Linked DNA regions of Homo sapiens. The protein of the gene in region 4 purifies or fractionates together with the protein of the main gene of each other region. This does not show direct contact. Each region holds a gene or a part of one and is shown on either strand. Other genes may lie near its edges. The genes, in order: SAMHD1, RPL10L, PPP6R1, MAP3K14, HERC5, PTCD3 and DHX30.

What was found.
Region 1: the proteins of MAP3K14 (region 4) and SAMHD1 purify together in Homo sapiens (affinity purification with mass spectrometry; one large-scale study listed by BioGRID and IntAct). This does not show direct contact.
Region 2: the proteins of MAP3K14 (region 4) and RPL10L purify together in Homo sapiens (affinity purification with mass spectrometry; 2 studies listed by BioGRID and IntAct, with this or other methods). This does not show direct contact.
Region 3: the proteins of MAP3K14 (region 4) and PPP6R1 purify together in Homo sapiens (affinity purification with mass spectrometry; one large-scale study listed by BioGRID and IntAct). This does not show direct contact.
Region 5: the proteins of MAP3K14 (region 4) and HERC5 purify together in Homo sapiens (affinity purification with mass spectrometry; one large-scale study listed by BioGRID and IntAct). This does not show direct contact.
Region 6: the proteins of MAP3K14 (region 4) and PTCD3 purify together in Homo sapiens (affinity purification with mass spectrometry; one large-scale study listed by BioGRID and IntAct). This does not show direct contact.
Region 7: the proteins of MAP3K14 (region 4) and DHX30 purify together in Homo sapiens (affinity purification with mass spectrometry; 2 studies listed by BioGRID and IntAct, with this or other methods). This does not show direct contact.

The regions. Positions count from the first base shown.
Region 1 is NC_000020.11:36,945,209-36,948,708, reverse strand, and holds part of SAMHD1 (deoxynucleoside triphosphate triphosphohydrolase SAMHD1), read left to right. Parts: intron 1-1,904; coding exon 1,905-1,971; intron 1,972-3,500.
Region 2 is NC_000014.9:46,650,510-46,652,986, reverse strand, and holds RPL10L (ribosomal protein uL16-like), read left to right. Parts: upstream 1-1,205; 5' UTR 1,206-1,250; coding exon 1,251-1,895; 3' UTR 1,896-1,977; downstream 1,978-2,477. UniProt on the Homo sapiens protein: Testis-specific component of the ribosome, which is required for the transition from prophase to metaphase in male meiosis I. Compensates for the inactivated X-linked RPL10 paralog during spermatogenesis.
Region 3 is NC_000019.10:55,232,149-55,235,017, reverse strand, and holds part of PPP6R1 (serine/threonine-protein phosphatase 6 regulatory subunit 1), read left to right. Parts: intron 1-2,806; coding exon 2,807-2,869. UniProt on the Homo sapiens protein: Regulatory subunit of protein phosphatase 6 (PP6). May function as a scaffolding PP6 subunit. Involved in the PP6-mediated dephosphorylation of NFKBIE opposing its degradation in response to TNF-alpha.
Region 4 is NC_000017.11:45,310,521-45,314,020, reverse strand, and holds part of MAP3K14 (mitogen-activated protein kinase kinase kinase 14), read left to right. Parts: intron 1-1,583; exon of another isoform or gene 1,584-1,736; intron 1,737-3,500.
Region 5 is NC_000004.12:88,463,619-88,467,118, forward strand, and holds part of HERC5 (E3 ISG15--protein ligase HERC5), read left to right. Parts: coding exon 1-5; intron 6-236; coding exon 237-367; intron 368-3,440; coding exon 3,441-3,500.
Region 6 is NC_000002.12:86,109,235-86,112,734, forward strand, and holds part of PTCD3 (small ribosomal subunit protein mS39 precursor), read left to right. Parts: intron 1-1,878; coding exon 1,879-1,924; intron 1,925-3,500. UniProt on the Homo sapiens protein: Mitochondrial RNA-binding protein that has a role in mitochondrial translation.
Region 7 is NC_000003.12:47,841,138-47,844,637, forward strand, and holds part of DHX30 (ATP-dependent RNA helicase DHX30), read left to right. Parts: coding exon 1-41; intron 42-479; coding exon 480-600; intron 601-1,968; coding exon 1,969-2,118; intron 2,119-3,500.

The DNA.
Region 1 (3,500 bases), on a different chromosome or scaffold from region 4:
TTTTAGTAGAGATGGGGTTTCACCATGTTGGCCAGGATGGTCTTAATCTCTTGACCTGATGATTCACACGCCTTGGCCTCCCAAAGTGCTGGGATTACAGGTGTGAGCCACCACGCCCGACCAGCAATAGTCTTTCTTTCTAATAAAGTTTCTCTTGGCCGGGCACGGTGGCTCACGCCTGTAATCCCAGCACTTTGGAAGGCCGAAGCAGGTAGATCACCTGAGGTCAGGAATTCAAGCCCAGCCTGGCCAACATGGTGAAACACCGTCTCTACTAAAAATACAAAAATTAGCCGGGCATGGTGGTATGTGCCTGTAGTCCCAGCTACTTGGGAAGCTGAGGCAGGAGAATCACTTGAACCTGGGAGGCGGAGGTTGCAGTGAGCCAAGATCCCGCCACTGCACTCCAGCCTGGGCGACCGAGTGAGACTCCATCTCGGAAAAGAAAAAAAAAGTCTCTCTTTATCTAAGTCCATTTTTTTTTTAATTTGATAAGCCAAGCACAAGGTACAGTGTCCCTTTTCTCATTATGGAATACAGCCTCACAAGAAGTCTGAAATAAGTTACTACACTCAACACATTTTACCGATGATGTATGCGAGGTCCAAAGATGTAAAGTAACTTTTCAGAGATCACACCACTACAAAAAAGAGCTAGATTTTTTAAGGTTAGGTCTTTGGACTCTAGAACTCATGTGATCTATACCTTAACAAGTATTCTCATCAAAAACCACTGGAGGCCTGGCCCAGTGGCTCATACCTATAATCCCAGCACTTTGGGAGGCCAGTGTGGGAAGATCACTTGAGCCCAAGAATTCAAGACCAGCCTGGGCAACATCAGGAGACCTCAACTTTACAAAAAATAAAAATAAAAATTAGCTAGGTGCAGTGGCACATGCCTGTGGTCCCAGCTACTCAGGAGGCTGAGGCAGGAGGATCGCTTGAGCCCAGGAGGTCAAGGCTGCAGTGAGATGTGATCGCACCACTGCACTCCAACCTGGGCAACAAGCAAAACCCTGTCTCAAAGAAAATAAAAGAAAATAGTCCAGAGTTCTGGAATTTGAGGTCAGGAAAGATTAGAATTAATTGTATAGAAAGAGAAAGGAAAAAACCCAACAACACACACACACACACACACACACACACACACACACACACCCCTCTTCCAAATCAGAGTATTGAGTGCTTTCCCAGGACACACACACACACACACACACTCACACACACACACACCTCTTCCAAATCAGAGTATTGAGTGCTTTCCCAGGACACACACACACACACACACACACACACACACACACCTCTTCCAAATCACACACACCTCTTCCAAATCAGAGTATTGAGTGCTTTCCCAGGACACACACACACACACACACACACACACACACACACACACCTCTTCCAAATCAGAGTATTGAGTGCTTTCCCAGGAGGTTTGAGAAAAATCAACACTTTAAGCACTCTTGAATTCACGGTTTTAACTTGTTAATTCTAAGAACAATAGACTTAGGTTTCCTTCCCTCCCCAACTCAAACCTTGTTAATTCTAAGAACAATAGACTTAGGTTTCCTTCCCTCCCCAACTCAAAGCTGCTGACCTGGCAAAACCCCAACAGGTAGTCGGGTTTCACTTTCCTTTTTGCAACTGGTTTTTCTTGGAACTAATTTACACAAATAATTTTGAAATTTTCACGTGATTTATCAAAAAATGCTTCTTGGTTTAGTTATTTAATTAAAATTAAGTCTTTACAAGTAGCAGATCAAAAAAGTGGTACTTGGCACAATCCATTGCCTGCAGTGGGTACTCACTTATGTGGATCTGGGTAAATGTTGGTGTATCCAAATTGAAAGAAAATGAAAAGCATATGTTGTATACATTGAATTTGTCTTTTTTCTTCCATAGAAAATGAAATCACAGGCGCATTACTGCCTTGTCTTGATGAGTCTCGTTTTGAAAATCTTGGAGTAAGGTAAGAATGAAGAAATAAATTCACGTTATAACCAAACACACTTTATCCATCTTTCAGGGACAAAGCCCAAAATCTCTGATATAAACTGTCCTCATTTTAAATCTATGAAGTGCTTTAAAACAGCAGAATCCCTTGCCTGCTGGTTTTGTTTGTTCATTTGTTTTTTGAGATAGTCTCTTGTTCACCCAGGCTGGAGTATCTCGGCTCACTGCAACCTCTGCCTCCCGGCTTCAAGTTATTCTCCTGCCTCAGCCTCCTGAGTAGCTAGGATTACAGGTGCCCACCACCATGCCCCACTAATTTTTTTTCGGTTTTTTTTTTTTTTGAGACAGAGTCTCGCTCTGTCTCCCAGGCTGGAGTGCAGTGGCGTGATCTTGGCTCACTGCAAGCTCCGCCTCCCGGGTTCATGCCATTCTCCTGCCTCAGCCTCCCGAGTAGCTGGGACTACAGGCGCCTGCCACCACGCCTGGCTACTTTTTTGTATTTTTTGGTAGACACAGGGTTTCACCATGTTAGCCAGGATGGTGTCAATCTCCTGACCTCGTGATCTGCCCGCCTCAGCCTCCCAGAGTGCTGGAATTACCGCGCCCGGCTGCCCCACTGATTTTTGTACTTTTAGTAGAGATGGGGTTTCACCATGTTGGCCAGACTGGTCTTGAACTCTTGGCCTCAAGTGATCCGCTTGCCTCGGCCTCCCAAAGTGCTGAGATTACAGGTGTGAGCCACCGCGACTGGCCACCTGCTGTTTGTTTTCGCTGTACAAATCCTATGTTTGCTATTACTGTTTATTCCTATTTTAGTTTATTTTTAATTTTATTTATTTATTTATTTATTGAGACAGAGTCTCACTCTGTCACCCAGACTGGAGTGCAATGGTGCGATCCCGGCTCACTGAACCCCCTGGGTTCAAGCCATTCTCCTGCCTCAGCTTCCTGAGTAGCTGGGATTACAGGCATGCACCACCATGCCCAGCTAAGTTTTGTATTTTTAGTAGAGACAGGGTTTCACCATGTTGGCCAGGCTGGTCTCGAACTCCTGACCTAAGGTGGTCTGGAGTTCTGACCTAAGGTGGGCCAAGGTCTGCCCACCTTGGCCTCCCAAAGTGCTGAGATTACAGGCATAAGCCACCGTGTGTGGCCTTATTCCTATTTTAAATAATGTTGCAGACAAATCTTCATCAAGTTTGTAGTGACCAACTTTTTACTCTCAAGTTCAGAATAATTGAATTATACACACTGGGAAATACATAAGAACCAATAGGGAAAAAAATGTTAGTAAGAAAATCAAGGCTACACCCCTATCTTGAGCATATTTCTAGGTTTTCCTAAAGATTGGAATATGCCCTGGTATTAGATTTAAAGACACTATGCAAAACAGGCACTTTTTAGTTGTATAATTTGGGAGAAGTCATTTAACCCTTCAGTTTCTGTACCTGTAAAATGGATAACAATAATGAGATGATGTACATAAAGTGTTGAAGCATATGATTAACGCTTAGTAAATTTTATAGATAGTGATACAGAAAATTA
Region 2 (2,477 bases), on a different chromosome or scaffold from region 4:
CAACATTAAAACAAAAAAGAAAACTAGAAAAATGCAAGTAGGGTTTGTAAACTATTAATTTCTTTTCCTCTCTCTTCTTCCTCCTTTCCTACACTCTGATCCCTGTCATAATATTTTTACAAACTCTGAGAAGAAAAAAAGTTTAAATTTATTCTCAGGGGCAAAAGATTACTAAAACACAAACTGTTACTCTTTTATATAGTTTCAGCAGCTTTAACATTTGAAAATGCAAATAGCCTTAAGTTAAAAAAAATCTAGTTGGTGTTTCAATTTTGTATATATCATTTTGATAATAAAATCATTTCTTTAGGCCAAATAAAGAAAAAACAAAGTTTCATGTTTATAAAACAATTGCCAAGCTACAGATACAACAGATATCTTCTCTTTATCCCTCTCTCTTCTCTTCCTCTCATCTCTTCCTGAGTCTCATCAAAGCACTCATGCCAAGAAACCACTTTATCCAGGGAAGGTGGCCACATAACCCAAGAAACAGCAATTGATCTACAAATGCTGACAGTGAGATACAAGCTCTGGAAAATGAACTGACCAAACTGGAAACAGCATGTTGAATAACTGGAAGGATTTTTCCTCTCAAATTCTAGGATTTCTTTTTTTCTTTTTCTTTAGACAGGGTCTCCCTCTGTCACTCAAGCTGGAGTGCAGTGGTGCTATCTCAGCTCACTGCAGTTTCTGCCTGCAGGGCCCAGGCGATCCTCCCACCTCAGCCTCCTGAGTAGCTGGGACTACAAGCATGTGCCACCATGCCCAGCTATTTGATATATATATATTTTTTTTTTTGTAGAGACAGCATTTCACTATATTGCCCAGGCTGGCCTCGAACTCCTGAGCTCAAGAGATTCTCCTGCCTGGAAATAACCTCTTTTATACTTAAAGCAAAGCTGAAAGCAAGAGTTCCTAGCCCAAGATGGCTAGCAGAAAGGAAGCAGCAGCTGTGCAGTTGGGGCGGGGCCCAATTCCTTCCCTGGCCGCCAGGGGGAGTCTACCCACAGCTGACTCTGCTCACCTTAAGCGCGCCACTTGGCGCAGGCGCTGAGGCGCCAGACGTCCCTGCGTCTCTGGTTGGGACGTCCTGAAAGAGAGTCGTCACATCCTCCTCAGGACTCTATGGTTCCGGCCTCAGGACTCTATGGTTCCCGCGAGGGACGAGGGGCAACGTATATAAATGCGCGCAGGCGTAGTTAAGAGAGCGCATTTTGACTTCGAGGCACCGCCGACGTTACTGTGTCGCCATGGGGCGCCGTCCAGCTCGCTGTTACCGGTATTGTAAGAACAAGCCGTACCCAAAATCTCGTTTCTGCCGAGGGGTTCCTGATGCCAAGATCCGCATCTTTGACCTGGGTAGAAAGAAGGCAAAAGTGGATGAGTTCCCACTCGGTGGCCACATGGTGTCTGATGAATATGAGCAGCTGTCTTCTGAAGCCCTGGAGGCCGCCCGTATTTGTGCCAACAAATACATGGTGAAAAGTTGTGGCAGAGATGGCTTTCACATGCGAGTGCGGCTCCATCCCTTCCATGTCATCCGCATCAACAAGATGTTGTCCTGTGCTGGGGCTGACAGGCTCCAGACAGGTATGCGAGGTGCCTTTGGAAAACCCCAGGGTACTGTAGCCCGGGTCCACATTGGTCAAGTCATCATGTCCATCCGCACCAAGCTTCAGAACGAGGAGCATGTGATTGAAGCCTTGCGCAGGGCCAAGTTCAAGTTCCCTGGACGCCAGAAGATTCATATCTCCAAGAAGTGGGGCTTCACGAAGTTTAATGCTGACGAATTTGAAGACATGGTGGCCAAGAAGTGCCTCATCCCTGATGGTTGTGGAGTCAAGTACGTTCCCAGTCATGGCCCCTTGGACAAGTGGCGGGTTCTGCACTCATGAAGGTTTTGGCAGTACTGTCTCCTTGGGCCATGCTGGTCTGACTTATGCTTACTAATAAATTCTGTTTACTGGCAAAAAATAACTCCTTATTAAGTTTTAATATTTTTTAAATATCCAATGTTTTAGAATATAGACTACTAGAGAATTTTTTTCTATTTATTCAGTTTTAATGGCAAATGTTACCTTCCTTGCTTCAGTAAAACTATACAATTTATAGAGAAAGCTGTTTTAAGCAAACACTTTAAATTTAGGAGAGTATAGAGCAATATGTTGAAAGTTTTGTTTGTAGTAAAGTCATAAGTTATGCAGCTATCATTCCTTGAATAAAAAATAGATTTGAGTGAAAAAATTTGTTTATAGAATATAAACTAAACAGTAGCGATGAAAATAATAGTAGGCATTAGTGATATTTCACCCACAGCCTCTTTGGAAGTAATTTATTTCTAAACTTGGTTGCCTTATGTTTTTCTATAAATTTCTGTACATTGTTTTTAGAATTACCTTACACGTCTGATTATCAGCCTTAGGACAATTGAGTATCACTCTGAAAGGCTTTTCCAGACGAACTTTACATTGTCTCAC
Region 3 (2,869 bases), on a different chromosome or scaffold from region 4:
TGTGTGGCCAATGGATATCCTTCCTCAGTGCCCAGACCCAGGAGCAGGACCTTCCCAGTACCCACATCCCCTCTGTTAGCCAGTATCCTCCCTTCTGAGGGTAAAGTTGTCCTGGCTTCTAACCCTGTAGATGAGTTTTGTCTCTGTTTTCACTTGATATAGCATACAGCATCTCCTTTTATGTCTGACCTCTGTTGCTCAACACTCTGCTTGTGAGCTCCTTCCCTGTTGTGTGTTTGGGTGCCCCTGGCTCTCGTGCAGTGGGGCAGTGCCATGCATGATGAGCTGCAGCTGAATTGCTTGTTCTGCAGTTGACAGGCCTTTGGGCAGGTTCCTGTTGCTCGCTGCTGTGAGTGCAGCCGCTGTGAGTGCGGCCGCTGTGAATACCCTTGCACGTGTTGTTGGTGCACAAGTGTGTCACTGCCAAATCCAGCATCTTGACTTAGCCCTCTCTTTTCTTCTAAGAGTTTTATAGCATTATTTCTATGGTTTTCCATTCATTTTGAGCTAAATTTTGTATATGATGTGAGGTGGTCCACCTTCATCCCTTTACATATAGATAACCAGTTTTCCCTGCACCAGTTGTTGAAGACACTGTCCTTTCTCCACTGAATCATCTTGGCACCTGTGTAAAAAGGAAATATTTGACCATATGTATGAGTTTGTTTCTTCCCTCTCTGTTCTGTTCTATCAGTCTGTGTGTTGTTTTTATCCAGTACCACACTGGCCTGGTTGCTGTTGCTTTATAGTAAGTTTTGAAAATGGGAGGTTTGTTGGGCACGGTGGCTCACACCTGTAATCCCAGCACTTTGGGAGGCCAAGGTGGATGGATCACCTGAGGTCAGGAGTTTGAGACCAGCCTGGCCAACATGGTGAAACCCCATCTCTACTAAAAATACAAAAATTAGCCGGCTGTGGTGGGTGCCTGTAATCCCAGCTACTCAGGAGGCTGAGGCAGGAATATCGCTTGAACCTGGCAGGCAGAGGTTGCAGTGAGCTGAGATCGCACCATTCATTGCACTCCAGTCTGGGTGACAAGAACGAAACTCCATCTCACAGAAAAAAGAAAATGGGAGGTTTTAGTTTTCCAACCTTGTTCTTCTTTTTAAAGATTGTTTTGCCCTATTTGGGATTTCTTGAGATTCCATATGAATTTTAGGATCAGCTTGTCAATTTCAACCAAGAAGCCACCTTGCGTCTTCTAATACGTGAACATGGATGTCTTTTTATATAGGTCTTAAAATTTCTTTCAACAATGTTTCGTAGGTTTTAGAGTATGAGGCTTTGTATTTCTTTTAAGTTTATTCCTGTTTTCTTCTTTCTGTTACTATTGTAAATGGAATTTTCTTGAAATTGTTTTCAGATTGTTACAAGTATATGAAAATACAATAGGTTTTTGTATGTTGATCTTTCATCCTGCAACCTTGCTGAACTAATGTATGAGTTCTGATAGTTTTAGTGGACTCCTTAGGATTTTCTATGTACAGAATCATGTCATGTGAATAGAGTTCATTTTCCTTCCTTTCAAATCTGGATGATTTTAATTTCCTTTTCTTGCCTGGTTGCCCTGGCTAGCCTCCGGGACAATGTTGAACAGAAGTGGCAAGAACAGGCATCCTTGTTTTGTTCCTGATCTTAGGGGGAAGCATTCAGCGTTTTGCCATGTAAGCATGCTGTTAGTTGTGGGGTTTTGTAGATGCCTTATGTTAGGTTGAGGGGCTTCCTTTATACTCCTTAGTCGTTGAGTATTTTAGTTTACTTTTAACTATATACAGATATATTACTTTCCAGTTAAAGTAGTCAGTTACTCTGTTAAGACAAAAATATTGGGTCAGCATTTTAGACATAGTATATAGTCCCATACTGCATCTTTGGGTCAGCGATGGACCACATATGACAGTGGTCCCGTGAGATTATAATCCTCTATTTTTGCTGTATTTTTCCTATGTTTAGATACACAAACATTTACCATTGTTAGAATTGCCTGTAGTATTCAGTACTGTAACATGCTGTATAGGTCGGTAGTCTAGGAACAATAGGCTATACCACAGAGCCTAGGTGTACAGGAGGCGCCACCATCCAGGTGTGTGTAAGTGCACTCTAGAATGTTCACACAATAGCAAAATCGCCTAATGATGGCGTTTTTCAGAGTGCACCCTCGTTGTTAAAGCTTAGTTTTAGTGTTACTTTGCTTACCCCTTCCCCGGTTGATCAGCACGTAGGTTGCTTGGATTTTCTTCATGCTCACAGGTGTGTGTTAGTCAACATTCAGCCAGTGTTTTTGGAGCAGCTATGGGTGCCTGGTGGTTTCTCAGGGCTGAGGATACAGCAGTGGCAAAACTCAGCCATCTCTGCCTTCTTGGAGTTTCTAGTTGGAGGGAGAGAGTAGTGTGAAGCCTCTGTCCAGAGGGTGGGCCTGCTGGTGGGAAGGCCTGTCACTGTGGTGACCGTGTGAGGTGACGGCTGGGAGGTGGCTTGAGAGCTGGTGAGTGGGTCTGTCTGCTCTGGTTGCCATGGCTGAGGCTCAGCCCACTTCCCCAGGGCCTGCCCTCCACGGATGACTGGCGACGGACGGTCTCCTTACGGCCGCATTCTGTCCCTGCCCGCCTGTGTTCTTGCCGTTGGCTCAGAACTCCCTCTCCCAGCCTCTCCTGGTGTCGTCACACCCCAGGCTCCCTGGACCCTTCTGTGACCTGCCTGTCATCCCAGCCCGCTCTCCTTGGGCTGACCCTGGGCTGCAGGGAACAGGATGGGTGTCGGCCGGTCTGTCCCACACAGCTAGCTGACGAGGTGGTTTCTGGGGCAGGAGTGGAGGCAGCACAGACAGTGAGGACGAAGAAGAGGAGGACGAGGAGGAGGAGGAAGACGA
Region 4 (3,500 bases):
CCCTTGAAATTATGTGGCATCAAGAATAATTTTATGGCCAGTCTTTGTATTTTCACACCATACTCATGTGAAGAAGGGCAGGGACAAAGATCAGAAAAGTGAAGCCTCATAAGGAGAAACAGACAGGATTGCTCAGAATCTAAACCCCCTTTTCTTGATATCTAGGTCACTGCTTTTTCTACTACCTTGCTCATGAAACGATAAGGATTTTCTTCCCCCAAACATGTCAATTTTGAACATAACGAAACCAGGGTAGCAGCTTTATTTATTTATTGTACCAATCAATTATTAATTGATATTGATTTTTAATTAATAAAAGGCCAAAAGATGAATAGCCTGCTGCCTGGACAGGTGTGCTTGTGCCCATTTTCCAGATGTAGAAACAAAGGCAGAGAGCCCGTGATTTGTCCAGAGCAACAGAACAAGTCCTTGGTGTCTCCGTGTCACATGTGGTGGCTGAGGCTGTCAGGTCAGAGAGACCTGGGTCAGGTCGAGGTCTGCCACGGCCTGCCTGTGTGCCCGCAAGCAAATCACTTCACTTCTCTAATCATCAGGTGCCTCATCTGTGAATGGGATCAGAAATACTTCATGGGGCTGTTTTGAGTAGAAAATGAGAGGAGATATGTAAAGTGCTGAGCCCAGTGCCCAGCACAGAACATAGAGGCTGTAACTGTTGTTGTTGTTGTTGTTGTTCTTGTTGGTGGTGTTTGGTGGTGGTAGTAATAGTAGTAGTAGTAGTAGTAGTAATAGTAGCAGTAGTAGTTGCCAATTACTGCATTGTGACTAAACCTGTTTTCTGTAAGATGATGTCAAGAAGGGTCAGACTGCCTGACAGGCCAGAGTCATTTTCTCAGTAGGACCTTTAGGGGGACAGTCCTTCAGTCTAAAAGCTTCAGCTCTCGGGTTCTCCCTGTCTTACACTATATACTGCCCTCACCATACTCCAAATGAGGCTACAAAGGTCCAGGCTCTGCCCAGTTGACAATCCTAACTCTGAGCTGGAGACACAGCTAGGCCTGTCTAGGGGCTTCCTGTGTCCCACACGTGATCAAGTAGGTTCCTGCATTAATCCTGGAGGTGAGGAAAGGGAAAATACTGTATGGCATGTAGATCAGCAAGGACTTGTTCTTTGGGGGAACAGGAGGGAACATTTGGTTCTGTGGGATGAGGTTCCCACTACCACATGGCATCCCCAGCTCACCACCCTTTCCCCCTCGTAAAGATGTCTTTGTCAGCTTCTCTCTGAGACTCTGTCTGGGGGCCCACGATCTGCAGTCAAGGACTTGCAGATTCCCCTTTAAATCTCACAAGAAGCCTGGAATGGTGACGTGTGTTTCTTTAGTCCCAGCTACTTGAGAGGCTGAGGCGGGAGGATCACTTGAGCCCAGGAGGTCAAGTAGCTATGGGCAACATAGCGAGACCCCATCTCTTGAAAGAAAAACGTTTGTTTTAATCTCACAAGGGAAAAAAAAAGTTTCATGTTATATTTTAAAGTCTTTTTTCACCTTAATACAAAACAAAAATATAGGCTCTCACCAGGCTACTGTTCCCTTTAAATAACATTTTGTTTTCTCTTGGGGAAGCTGACTTGATGGCCGAAGAGTCATTTCTAAAGTGAAGCTAGTTTTTAGAAAAAATAGATCACCGGATGTCAAGCCTCATGTGGAGCTCGGTTCAGATGAAAATGAAACCAGCAGGCCTGGCGTGGCAGCTCTGCACTTGACTTCAGGCTGGAGGTGAGAGGCAGAGTGTGCCTGGACCTTGCTCCATAACTGGTTGGCCCCACAGAGTGCATTTGATAGGTGCCTTAGTCATTTTCCAAGCAGCTTTGCTTAGGTGAGCAGAGCACTTTCTCTGGAAGGTGAGTCACCCATGCAGGGGTGTAGGTGACAGGCGATTTATTCCCCAGCACAGTTGCAGAGAAAGTCCTGAGCAGACCTTCGTGAGGAGCCCTCTGCCACAAATCAGCCTCATCCCAGCCCCAGGGCTATGGAGGCAGGGGGCAGGAGGTAAACAGGAGGCTTCTGGGGCCAGTGGGCTGACAGCGGAGGGGGGATCGTGGACGGGGCACAGAGCCCAGATCAGCAGTGTCACTGACTCCTAAGTCCAGCCACCCTGAGGGTGGAAAATGGCCTGCTTCCAGTGACAGTCAGCAAAGAAGCAGGAGGGGAGCTTTGGCCCTGGGGAGCTGGGAAATCCCTTGGCAGAGAGCAGAGAGACAAGCCCTATTTTGGTGTGAAAAACCTTTTAGGAACGCTTTTCCACCTGCCTCCTTTTCAGCCACCTGAGTTGGAGTCTCTGCAGAGCTCCAGCGATTGTAAAGGCTAGATTAAACCCTGGATTTCAGAAAGCTTTAGGAATCCCAAGCCTGCCACCATCTCAGTTGTCTACACTTCTAGGACCAGGATTTGTACCAAGAAAGAAGCAGCAGGGGGTACTCCTGAGCCATCCCTCCCTCCCAGGTTCTGGTTACTACAGCTTCTCCTGACGCTCTTTCTGCTAAAGCCACTATCAGGTGTCCATTAACGCAGAGATTTTCTTCAGACACTGTTCTGGACTAGTGCAGTTGGTGTTGAACTTGACCGATTATGGTCAGGGACATCTATAAGCAATGTCCAGGACCAACTACAAGGAGGGCTTGACTTTAATGAAGCTGCAGCTCTTGCAAATAATCTCGTTCCCTGTCTCTGGCAGACTACCAACCCAGCCCCTGTACCCATACCCCATCAGTCTGGACCAACCAGTAGTCACCTCCTGCTGGCATGGCTAAATAACCTTAACCTCACTGTCCAGAAAGAGCTGTTAGGATTATAGCCTGGACATGATCATTCACATTTTTTGCAGTGAGAAAATGCAGAAGAGAAAATGGTGGCCCAAGAAAGCCAAGTGGGTTGCCCAAGGCCACACAGCTAGTTAATGGCAGAGCCTGAACTATAAAACCCAGACTCTTCACTGTACTCTGCTGCCAGGGAACGAAGGAACTAATCCTGAAGCAGGATTTTTTTTTTTAAACTAGCTTCTCCTTTTATTCCCCTACCACAACCCTATCACTCTCAGCCTTTCTGCAAGCTCTGCCAGGCCTGGGAAGGGTGGAGCCACAGCAGCTGCTGCCCTGGGTCTAAGAAAAAGTAAACAGAAAGCTATTTGTTGGACGCTGTCTTATACCATGAGGTTCATGTAATCAAAAGGAGGTCAAGGTTGATAAGAAAATACAATTACCAGGAAGTCTCAAAGGTTGCCCACACCTTTAGGGCACTTTCCTACCTAGCCAAGCAGTATCTCACCTAGAGTGGGTATTTAGTAACTTTCAATGATTGATTACAGGGGTCCAAACCCACAGTGCACGAAGCTCTTCTGCATCTTTCTTCTGTGCAGGAGGTGCATGCATACTCTGGGTGTTATCCTAGCTGATCTGCCTGGCTCCTCTCAGTGAGAGGCTCTTCCTTGTGGGTGAAGCATGATGTCATGATGTCATATCTGGATGGTGGCCCCTGTAAGTG
Region 5 (3,500 bases), on a different chromosome or scaffold from region 4:
CACAGGTGGGTGTACCCTTGTCTCTTTTTGGCTGTATTTTTAGAAGAACAGTTTGTATGGGAAGTTAGTGTTTCCCAGAGAAGAAAGGTCATCACTTCCTGTATGTAGGACTGTCCTTCTGATATTTAGGAGCTTTACTTTGACAGTGCTATTTATTAGTGATTCACTTTGCATCAGTGAATACTACTTTTTTATTTTATTTTTCTAGCATCTGATATGACATTCCCTTTCCTTAGGATGGGCTGCTGTTTACTTTCGGTGCTGGAAAACATGGGCAACTTGGTCATAATTCAACACAGAATGAGCTAAGACCCTGTTTGGTGGCTGAGCTTGTTGGGTATAGAGTGACTCAGATAGCATGTGGAAGGTAAGTTGTAAAGTATCAATAAGAATTGATAAAATGAGTGCAGCAAACTAGATAGTAATTTAATAAAATTTCTTTCAGTTTCTTTGAGATGTATCAAACATTTTCAAATCAGTGAAAATGCTTAATTTATATTATTTAGATAAATGTAATACCCCTTTTACTATACATGGTTGTTTTCTTTGATTTTTTTTTTTTTTTTTTTTTTTAAATGAGCAGATACAATTCACTTTCTGCTGTCTCCTTAGTGAAATACCTTTGTAACTATTCAGGTGCACTTTTGTCTTAAAAAAACAAGTCATTAATTGTTTATTTGGGAAAAATAAAATGTAAATCACAAAGGATTATTCATTAAATGTAATCACCCTCTCTGACAATGCCTTGTGGCCAACATACTTTTTAATTACCAGAGTTCTTTCATTGTAGCCTGCCCTGATCACAGTAAAGTATAAGACATAGTCAGTGATGGTTTGAGTGAAATATTCCTAAGAAGTTTAATTTTCACAGCTCCTTTTTAGAAAAGAAAGGTAAAATGTCTTGCTCAGACTCCTTAGTTTATTTAAAGGTTTTTTGGTTTTCTTGTTTGTTTGTTTGTTTGTTTTTTGGTTTTTGGTTTTTTTTTTTGAGGCAGAGTATTGCTTTGTTGCCCAGGCTGGAGTGCAGTGACGCAATCTCAGCTCACTGCAACCTCCGCCTCCCAGGCTCAGGTTATTCTCCCACCTCAGCCTCTGGAATAGCTAGGATTACAGGCGTGCACTGCCACAACTGGCTAATTTTTAAATTTTATTTATTTATTATTTTTTTTTGAGACGGAGTCTCGCTCTGCTGCAAAGGCTGGAGTGCGGTGGCGCAATCTCGGCTCACTGCAAGCTCCGCCTCCTGGGTTCACACCATTCTTCTGCCTCAGCCTCCGGAGTAGCTGGGACTACAGGCGCCCGCCACCACGCCTGGCTAATTTTTTGTATTTTTAGTAAAGACGGGGTTTCACTGTGTTAGCCAGGATGGTCTCGATGTCCTGACCTTGTGATCCACCTGCCTCGGCCTCCCAAAGTGCTGGGATTACAGGCATGAGCCACTGCACCTGGCCACAACCGGCTAATTTTTGTATTTTTAGTAGAGTCGGGGTTTCACCGTGTTGGCCAGGCTGGTCTTGAACTCCTGACCTCAGGTGATCTGCTCGCCTTGACCCCTCAGAGTGTTGGGATTACAGGGGTGAGCCACCACGCCACTATTTAATTTTTTTGATTATCAGATATATCAGTCCACGTCTTGCCAGAGGGATGTTGGAAGTTGGTAGGATTAAAAAATATTTTCCCCCATATACACTTATTCTTTTGGGCAGTTTTTCCCTCACTAAACGTAGAGCAAAATTCAGACTGTATTTGAATGCTGGGTTCATTTGTTAGTTTACTGAAACCATTCTTATAAAAAACTAGCATGAATACTTTCAGTCTGTAGGCATATTTTCTTATGATCTTGGAGTAGAATTACATAAATGGGTAATATTATTAAGGTAGACCAAATTATCGGAATATGAGTCTCTTCACCAAAGAAGCGTTCTCTTCAATATTTATACCTCATTCGGTATCTCTTAACCAAAGCAGTCTTATCACCTCTTTGGATTCTTCATTACATACAGTCCTTTTGAGTAGCATGTATTACAAGAGAAGGAGGCAAGTTGGAGATCTGTCTTAATGCACATCAGGGCAATACCCCTACTAACAGGACAATTCACTGGAAAGACTCACGAACTTACTAAAAGCTATTATGCTCATAGTCACATTTATTACAAGAAAAGGATACAAACTAGTACCAGTCAAAGGAAGACACATAAGGGCAGGGTATAGGAGGGCTGCAAATGCTGAGCTTGTGGCTGTCACCTCCCCTTGGAGCAGGTGGATGGTGTTATCTCTTCTGGCCTGATAATGTGACAGGACATACAGAATTTGCCAGCCAATCAGAGAAATTCACCCAAGTTGAGAGTTGTTTTTGTTTTTTCTGGTTTTTTTATTTTGGAGACAGGGTACAGGATGTACATAATCTGCCATCTAGTCAGAGGAGTTCACCCAAGTCAAGACCAAGTCAAGAGTTGTTTTTGGTTTGGTGGTTTTTTTTTTTTTTTGAGACAAGGTCTCACTCTGTCACCCAGGCTGGACTGCAGTGGTGCTATCATGGCTTACTGCAGCCTTGACCTCCCAGGCTCAAGCAATCCTCCTGCCTCAGCCTCCTGAGTAGCTGGGACCACAGGTCCACCATGCCCAGCTAATTTTTAAATTTGTTGTAGAGATAGGGTCTCCTTATATTGGCCAGGCTGGTCTTAAACTTCTGGGTTCAAAGTATCCTACTGCCTTGGCCTCCCAAAGTGCTGGGATTACAGGCATGAGCCACCACACCCCACCTAAATTGAGGGGTTTTATTGCTGAGGCATGATTGGTTAAATCATTGCCCGGATAGTTAAACTTAATCTCCAGCACTGCCCTCCTGTAGGTCTGATTTACATCACAGGCCAGGAGAGCTCTCCCAGGATCCTGCCATGAATAATAAAGACTCTCCTCTATCACTTGGGGAATTCTGTGGGTTTAGAGGTTACCTCCTAGGAACAGGGCACCAGCCAGACCTCTCTGGGCAAGGCAGATTCCTTGCTACACAACAGTATAGTGGAATATACAAACCAGCAAATCAATAGGAAAATCAGTGTGGTAAAGGTCTTTGAGAAATTAAGTGGGAACTCAACTGAGTCTTCCAGGATGGAAAGTGAAGGGACTCAGAGATGGTTTCCAAGAGGTGGTGACTCAAACTGATGTTGAAAAATGAGCAGAGGGCAAGGGGAGGTGCTTGTTTCAACAAAGGGAACACCATTTGCCAAAGTATGACATCATGGTCTTGAGTGGCCTTTGGGTTCCAAAGTCTTTTCAGGTACATGTTGATTTCTTGGTTTCCAGATGATTTTCATCCTCTAAGAGATGTTTAGTTTCACTCTCACTGGGTAACATAGTTTTGGCAATTTACTGTATTGCTAAACACTCTCATCATTGTGGATAATTAAGAATTGACCATATGTGCTTTTATTTAATAGGTGGCACACACTTGCCTATGTTTCTGATTTGGGAAAGGTCTTTTCCTTTGGTTCTGGAAA
Region 6 (3,500 bases), on a different chromosome or scaffold from region 4:
CTCTACTAAAAATACAAAAAAATTAGCCGGATGTGGTGGGGGGTCGCCTGTAGTCCCAGCTACTCGGGAGGCTGAGGCAGGAGAATGGCGTGAACCCGGGAGACGGAGCTTGCAGTGAGCCGAGGTCGCGCCACTGCACTCCAGCCTGGGCGACAGAGCAAGACTCCATCTCAAAAAAAAAAAAAGACTTGGGTTCATTTAAAAAGACTTTTTTAAGAACTTTATTAATCTGAACTGTGTGATTATTTTAGGGAGGCCAGGGAGCCCAGTGATGTCAATGCATAGGTAACTGGGATCATAAAAGAAGTGCAAATTAAAACTTACCGTATTGGCAGAGAGAGGATTTGAAGAAATACGTTTGTTTATGGGACAGTAAATTGGAACAGCTCTTTGGAGGGAAATTTGGCAGAATCAGAATTGGAAATGTGCGTACCTTACTGGTTAGCCACTTTGGAGGAACATTTGCATATATACATGGACAAGACTGTTCTTTATTACTTGGGAATAGTAACAGGTTGAAACAGCCTGAATGCCCATTGAAAAGTGAATGGATAATTTTAAAAGGTTATCATACAATAACTTTTTACATTGAAAGGAATTAATTAGCTCTATATTTAATAACATGGATAGTGCAGCCAAACTTATGTAGACACATGCAGAATGACAGTGTGTATACGTTTTTTAGGGAGATGTTTATGTGTGAAAATACCTTTAAAAGTTCTGGAAATACAAATACCAAATTCATCGTGGAGAGGGGTCACAAGATGACACCAGACACTTTAGGTTAACGTGTAATGTTCTAGTTTATTTTTTTAAGATAATGTATGATACCTTTTAAAGTAACCCTTTAAAGAAAGAGAATTAGTGAGTAATCTGAATGTCATCATTTTTTCACTGCCATTTGTTCAATATGTTAGGAAAGTTTGCTAACTTGATAAGACTTAAATAGGGCAATAAAAGATCTGCTGAAGGAATGCTGACAGATGAGAGAATGTGTCGTTATCACACTTGCTGAAATTACATAAATGTGACTTCTAAACGTGGATAGAAAATTTAGTGGATATTATGTACATCAGGGAATTAGTTTTGATGAAATATAAAATTTCCTGTACTTTTGTTTTTCTCAGATGACTTATAGTCTTAAGAATGTTATGTTAAACTTTATTTAGAAAAATACTCTTGGTATAATTCCCTTTTGGAAAGGAAACACATTAAATCTAACATAGGAGCACAAATATATTTGAGATCAAATTATCTTGTCTGTCATTTATTCCAGTGAAGCCTTTTCTAATAGTTCAGTAAAGGTCTCTACTCAGAGGTGCAGTGGACAGCTGGCCTGCAATTCTTACCATAACGTTATATATGGTTGAGAGGTTCTAAACCAGGAGGTTGCATCAGAATTATCTGGGAATTCAGTAAGAGTGTGTGTGACAGTCCTCCATGGATCTTGGGAGGCTTTGATGCAATAGGTCCAGAGTGAAGCCTGTGGTTTATTCTCCTATAACTGAATCAAGAGCTACCAATTAGGATAGTAAAGGCAACAGTAGTCCCGAAAGCTGCAGTAAGAATCCATAGGAAAGTGGGTAGAGGAAGTAGGCCAGATAGTTTTATGAGGGCGGGATGGAAATCACTAGCCCTGGGTTATGGCATTATGCACCAGGCCAGAGAGGACAGGCAAAGAGAGGAACATGTACCAACTAGGGGAAAGAACCAGCAGTTTTCTTAATTTCTAATTTATTCTAGTGACCTTGTGACATAACCAGCTTCAGATGAGATCTGCACTATGTTATTGGCCAGTACACTGAGAGTAGAATCACTTGTTCGGTTTGTGGCTATGAAGAGCCCTGATGAGGATTAACTTGTGGTTCTTATTTTTAGGGATAAAGTAGCCGTTCTTCAGGCACTTGCATCCACAGTAAACAGGGTAAGTAGGATTTTGTGTTTTTTTTTAACCTAAAACTTGGCTAATAACACACTTTTTAACTCGGCTAATAACACATTTAATACTCATACCTCGTCATTACTCAGAATTAAACTGTTGTGCGTCTAGAAAGTTTCTTTAAAATTGTCTAGGCCGGGCGCGGTGGCTCACGCCTGTAATCCCAGCACTTTGGGAGGCCGAGGCAGGTGGATCACAAGGTCAGGAGATCGAGACCATCCTGGCTAACACAGTGAAACCCCGTCTCTACTGAAAATATAAAAAATTAGCCAGGCGTGGTGGCAGGCACCTGTAATCCCAGCTACTTGGGAGGCTGAGGCAGGAGAATGGCGTGAACCCAGGAGGCAGAGCTTGCAGTGAGGAGAGATCGCGCCACTGCACTCCAGCCTGGGCGAAAGAGCGAGACTCTGTCTCAAAAAAAAAAAAATTGTCTAATCCAGCTGAGCCAGGTGGCTCATGAATGTGATCCCAACACTTTTGGAGGCCAAAGTAGGAAGACCACTTGACATCAGGAGTTCAAAACCAGCTTGGGCAATGTAGCAAGACCCCCATCTGTTTTTTGTTTGTTTGTTTGTTTTGTTTTGTTTGAGACAGAGTTTTGCTCTTGTTGCCTTAGGCTGCAGTGCAATGGCGCGATCTCGGCTCACCGCAACCTCCACCTCCTGGGTTCAAGCAATTCTTCTGCCTCAGCCTCCTGAGTAGCTGGGATTACAGGCATGTGCCACCACGCCCAACTAATTTTGTATTTTAAGTAGAGACGGGGTTTCTCCATGTTGGTCAGGCTGGTCTCGAACTCCTGACCTCAGGTGATCCACTTGCCTTGGCCTCCCAAAGTGCTGGGATTACAGGTGTGAGCCACTGCGCCAAACTTTTTTTTTTTTTTTTTTTTAATTTATTTTTTGAGACGGAGTCTTGCTGTGTCGCCCAGGCTGAAGTGCAGTGGCACAGTCCCGGCTCACTGCAAGCTCTGCCTCCCAGGTTCATGCCATTCTCCTGTCTCAGCCTCCCGAGTAGCTGGGACTACAGGCGCCCGCCGCCACGCCTGGCTATTTTTTTGTATTTTTAGTAGAGACGGGGTTTCGCTGTGCTCACCAGGATGGTCTCCATCTCCTGACCTCCTGATCCACCCGCCTTGGCCTCCCAAAGTGCTGGGATTACAGATGTGAGCCACAGTGCCCGGCCTTTTTTTTTTTTTTTTAAGAATAAAATTATTGGCCAGGAGCAGTGGCTCACATCTGTAATCCCATCACTAATCCCATCACTTTGGGAGACCGAGGGAGGCTGATTGCTTGAGGTCAGGAGTTCGATACCAGCATGGTGAACATGGTGAAACCCTGTCTCTACCAAAACAACAAAAACAAAAATTACGAGGCATGGTGGCACCTGTAGTCCTACCTATTCAGGAGGCTGAGGCAAGAGAATCTCTTGAACCTGGGAGGCAGAAGTTGCAGTGAGCCAAGGTCCTGCCACTGCATTCCAGCCTGGGTGAGTTAGTGAGACTCTGTCTCAAAAAAAAAAAAAAAAAAAAAAATTTAAAATAAAATTATCAAATCCCTTTATT
Region 7 (3,500 bases), on a different chromosome or scaffold from region 4:
ATGACCCAGCAGGATTCCCACGCTCCACTCAGGGACTCAAGGTACAGATGGAGGATGGGGATGCAGCAGAGGCTGGCTGTGCCTTGACACGGGGATGGGCGAATGTTCTCTGCTAGCTTTCTCTGAGATGGGAGCGCCCCTGCCTCACATTTCAGCCTGTGTGCCCCATCACTCAGTGTGTGTCTGCCCATTCTTGGGGGACAGCCAGCTGTGGTCTTCTATGTGGCTGGGCTTTTGCAGAACAGCAGCATGGAGCCCCTGCTCTCTGCTATCTTATCTGTGTGAGGGAATGGAGGGAGCAGTCCCCATGCAGTGTGGCTGTGGGAGGAGCAGAGACGCCCGGTTTCCCATCCATTTCATGCCTTCTGCCCTTCTGGCTCCCTGCTGCAGCGCAGCGTCCTCACCCCTACATCGCAGAGCCTCAGGGAAATTGGTCCAGGAAGAGAGAATTCTTTCAGTTAAACTTTTGGTCCTCCCAGGGGGAGTTCCTTTGAGATGACAGATGACGACAGTGCCATTAGGGCTCTGACCCAGTTTCCACTTCCCAAGAACCTTCTGGCCAAGGTGATTCAGATTGCAACGTCATCCTCCACAGCTAAGGTGAGTTGGGTCTCCTAGAAGTTTGTGTGGGGGCCGTTTACTTGGTCATGTCTGGTGTTCCCTAAAGGCAGGTTTAGAGAGGGCTGAGGGGGTGTGTTCCTCCAGCCCAAACCTAGGCCAGGTGGAGGAACTCCTGCTTGGGAGGAAAAGCAGCAGGTGTGATGGAATGGAGGTCAAGCCTCAGCAGCACAGGGAGTGGGCTTGGGGGCCGCAAGAGCAGAAGACCCATACCTCTTCTGGGCGGTGGATTGTCAGTGGGGAAGGGTTAGAGGTGTGGGTCTTGGTGAGGTATGAATTTCTCTCTTGCTGCCAGGCGAAGGGGCTTTGGTCATGAAATGCCTAACCTTGTTTTTACTTTAACTCGTTGCTTTGAATTTTGTCCTGCTTGTCTCTTTAATCACCTAGCCTTGCTTCTCATGTAAAATAAGACTCTCTCTAGCTAAGAAAGCCGTACAAACCCCAATTGACCCCTTAATTTACAAGACACTAAGGGCTCCTCACCCAACCCCCTTTCGTAAGGAGTTGGCCTGGGTAAACAGATCCTCAGCATTTCAAAGGAGCCTAATTAACTGATAAGGTACGAACACCAACAATATATGAAGTTCCCAGGAATTTTCTCCAAGAGATAACAACATAAAACCTTGAGTTCGTGTCTGGCGTAGACCCTATATCTAATTATAATGAAAGATTTAGAATCTTGCACCTGGTACTGTTGCTCTTCTTGTAACCATTTGTCTTTTAAGTTGTTTATCACTCTGTAACCATTTTGATTCTTTTGATTCTTGCATGTTTTTACTTCTGTAGAATTATTACATTTAAGTCCCCCTCCCCTTCCTAAACCTAAGTATAAAAGTTAATCGAGCCCCTTCCTCGTGGCCGAAAGAATTTTGAGCATTAGCTGTCTCTTTGGCCGCCGGCTTAATAAAGGACTCTTAATTCGTCTCAAAGTGTGGCGTTTCCTTAACTCGCCTAAGTACAACAGTTAAGCAGAGCTTCTGTCCAGGTGCAGGGTCTTTTTGCTCCCGCAGGATGTGCCTGGTTTTTAGCTCATGCTGACAGCTTCAACCCACAGCTGCCACGATGTTGCCGAGATGACAGTGGGCTAGGAGGGCAGGTGATGGCATTGCCCAAGCACTGTCTTCTGCAGTGGAAGTCGAGGTATAGCAGGAGAAGCGAGCCTGGGACTAGGGTGCCTGAGCCCATGGGCCTGCTCCTGGCTATGCAGCAGCACCTCTAGCATGGCTCACGCCTGGCACCTGCTGAGATGGTGGCTCATTCTGTCTCTGGGCTCCTTGGCATTCTGAGAATGCCCCAAGTCTCTTCCCATTCCCTACATTTCTGTAACCATCTCTCTTGCCTTCCATGTAGAACCTCATGCAGTTCCATACTGTGGGCACCAAGACCAAGCTGTCTACACTCACCCTGCTCTGGCCCTGCCCCATGACCTTTGTTGCCAAAGGGCGCCGCAAAGCAGAGGCTGAGAATAAGGCGGCAGCCTTGGCCTGCAAGAAACTGAAGGTGAGTCCAGGAAGGTCCTGGGTGTGGTGCATGAGAATGTCTTGAAGCTCCCCTCTGCCAGTGGCAAATGGGTCCCATTTTCTAGGAAATGAAACCACCACAGCAGGCCTTTTGCCTGGCACAAAGACAGCTGGTATGCAGGCCTCGCTTGTAGGCCCTGTGGCTGTTGCCATGGCTTTTCCAGAGGCCCTGTGGAGATACTTTGCCCGTGACCCAGCATTTTCCACACTGTTGGCCTGAACCTGGTGAGGCCGGGAGGAAACTTGCTCATTGTTCTGAATAGTATAAAGCCGGGAGGAGCCGGGCCTGTTTTGAGAGGCAGACCTGGTGTCCAGTATGATCCTGATAACCCGGGTTTTGTGGGCAGAATGAATAATGTGACTTGTGACTGCAGTGATGATTGAGGAAGCAGTCAGGATCAAGGTAGAGACAGTGTGGCAGACAGCTGGCAGTTCTCTTTTTTTTGAGACAGGGTCTCTGTGGCCCAGGCTGGAGTATAGTGGCACGATCATGGCTCACTGCAGCCTCGATCTCCTAGGCTTAAGCGATCCTTTCACCTCAGCCTCCTGCATAGCTGGGACCATAGGTATGCACCACCACTCCCAGCTTATTTTTAAACATTTTTTGTAGAGACAAGGGTCTCACTGTGTTGCGAAGACTGGTCTTAAAATCTTGGGCTCAATCAGTCTTTCTACCTTCACTTCCTAAAGTGTTGGGATTGCAGGCGTGAGCCACCGCTCCTGGCCATGGCCGTTCTCTTGAAAGGGGCTGGTGGAGTTAGCTGATGGCACAGTAGTGGGAGGGAGTTGGGATTGTCTCTGACTGCCTGAGGAGTTAGTAATCTCAACCCATGTTGGTGGAGGTTTAGTTTGCAGACCAAGATAGAAATGGGCCTGCTTTACTCTGAATGGTCAGGTGCACCATTTCATGGGTACAGTTGGCTCTGGGAACCATGTTTTAGTTACAGCTGATGGTGAGAGGTAACAAGAACCTGGAGAAAGACGAGGAAGAGGGGACAGGCAATTGGTGAGATAAAGAGGGCACAGATATGCTACCTGTGACTCGAGGGCAGAACAAGGACTGAGTAGAACTGGAGGCATCTGAGCTTTGGCCTGATGCACACGCACTGTGAGCAGAAGCACCTTGGCATGGTAGGGGCCTGTCTGGGAAGGAGCAAGCTTTGCAGTGGCTGGAGGGCCATTTGTCAGTGAGGCTGGTGGGTAAAACCCATGAAGTCTGGGGAGAGGGCAGAAGCCTGTTCCTGCAGCAAGGAGCTTGTGTTGGCACCTCCTGTGGTATGAGGACCAGATTCCTGTCCTTTAGGTCCTTATAGCTGATGGTGCCAGCACGCCCAGAGGCAGGGGGTTGGCCCCTGTTGGGGG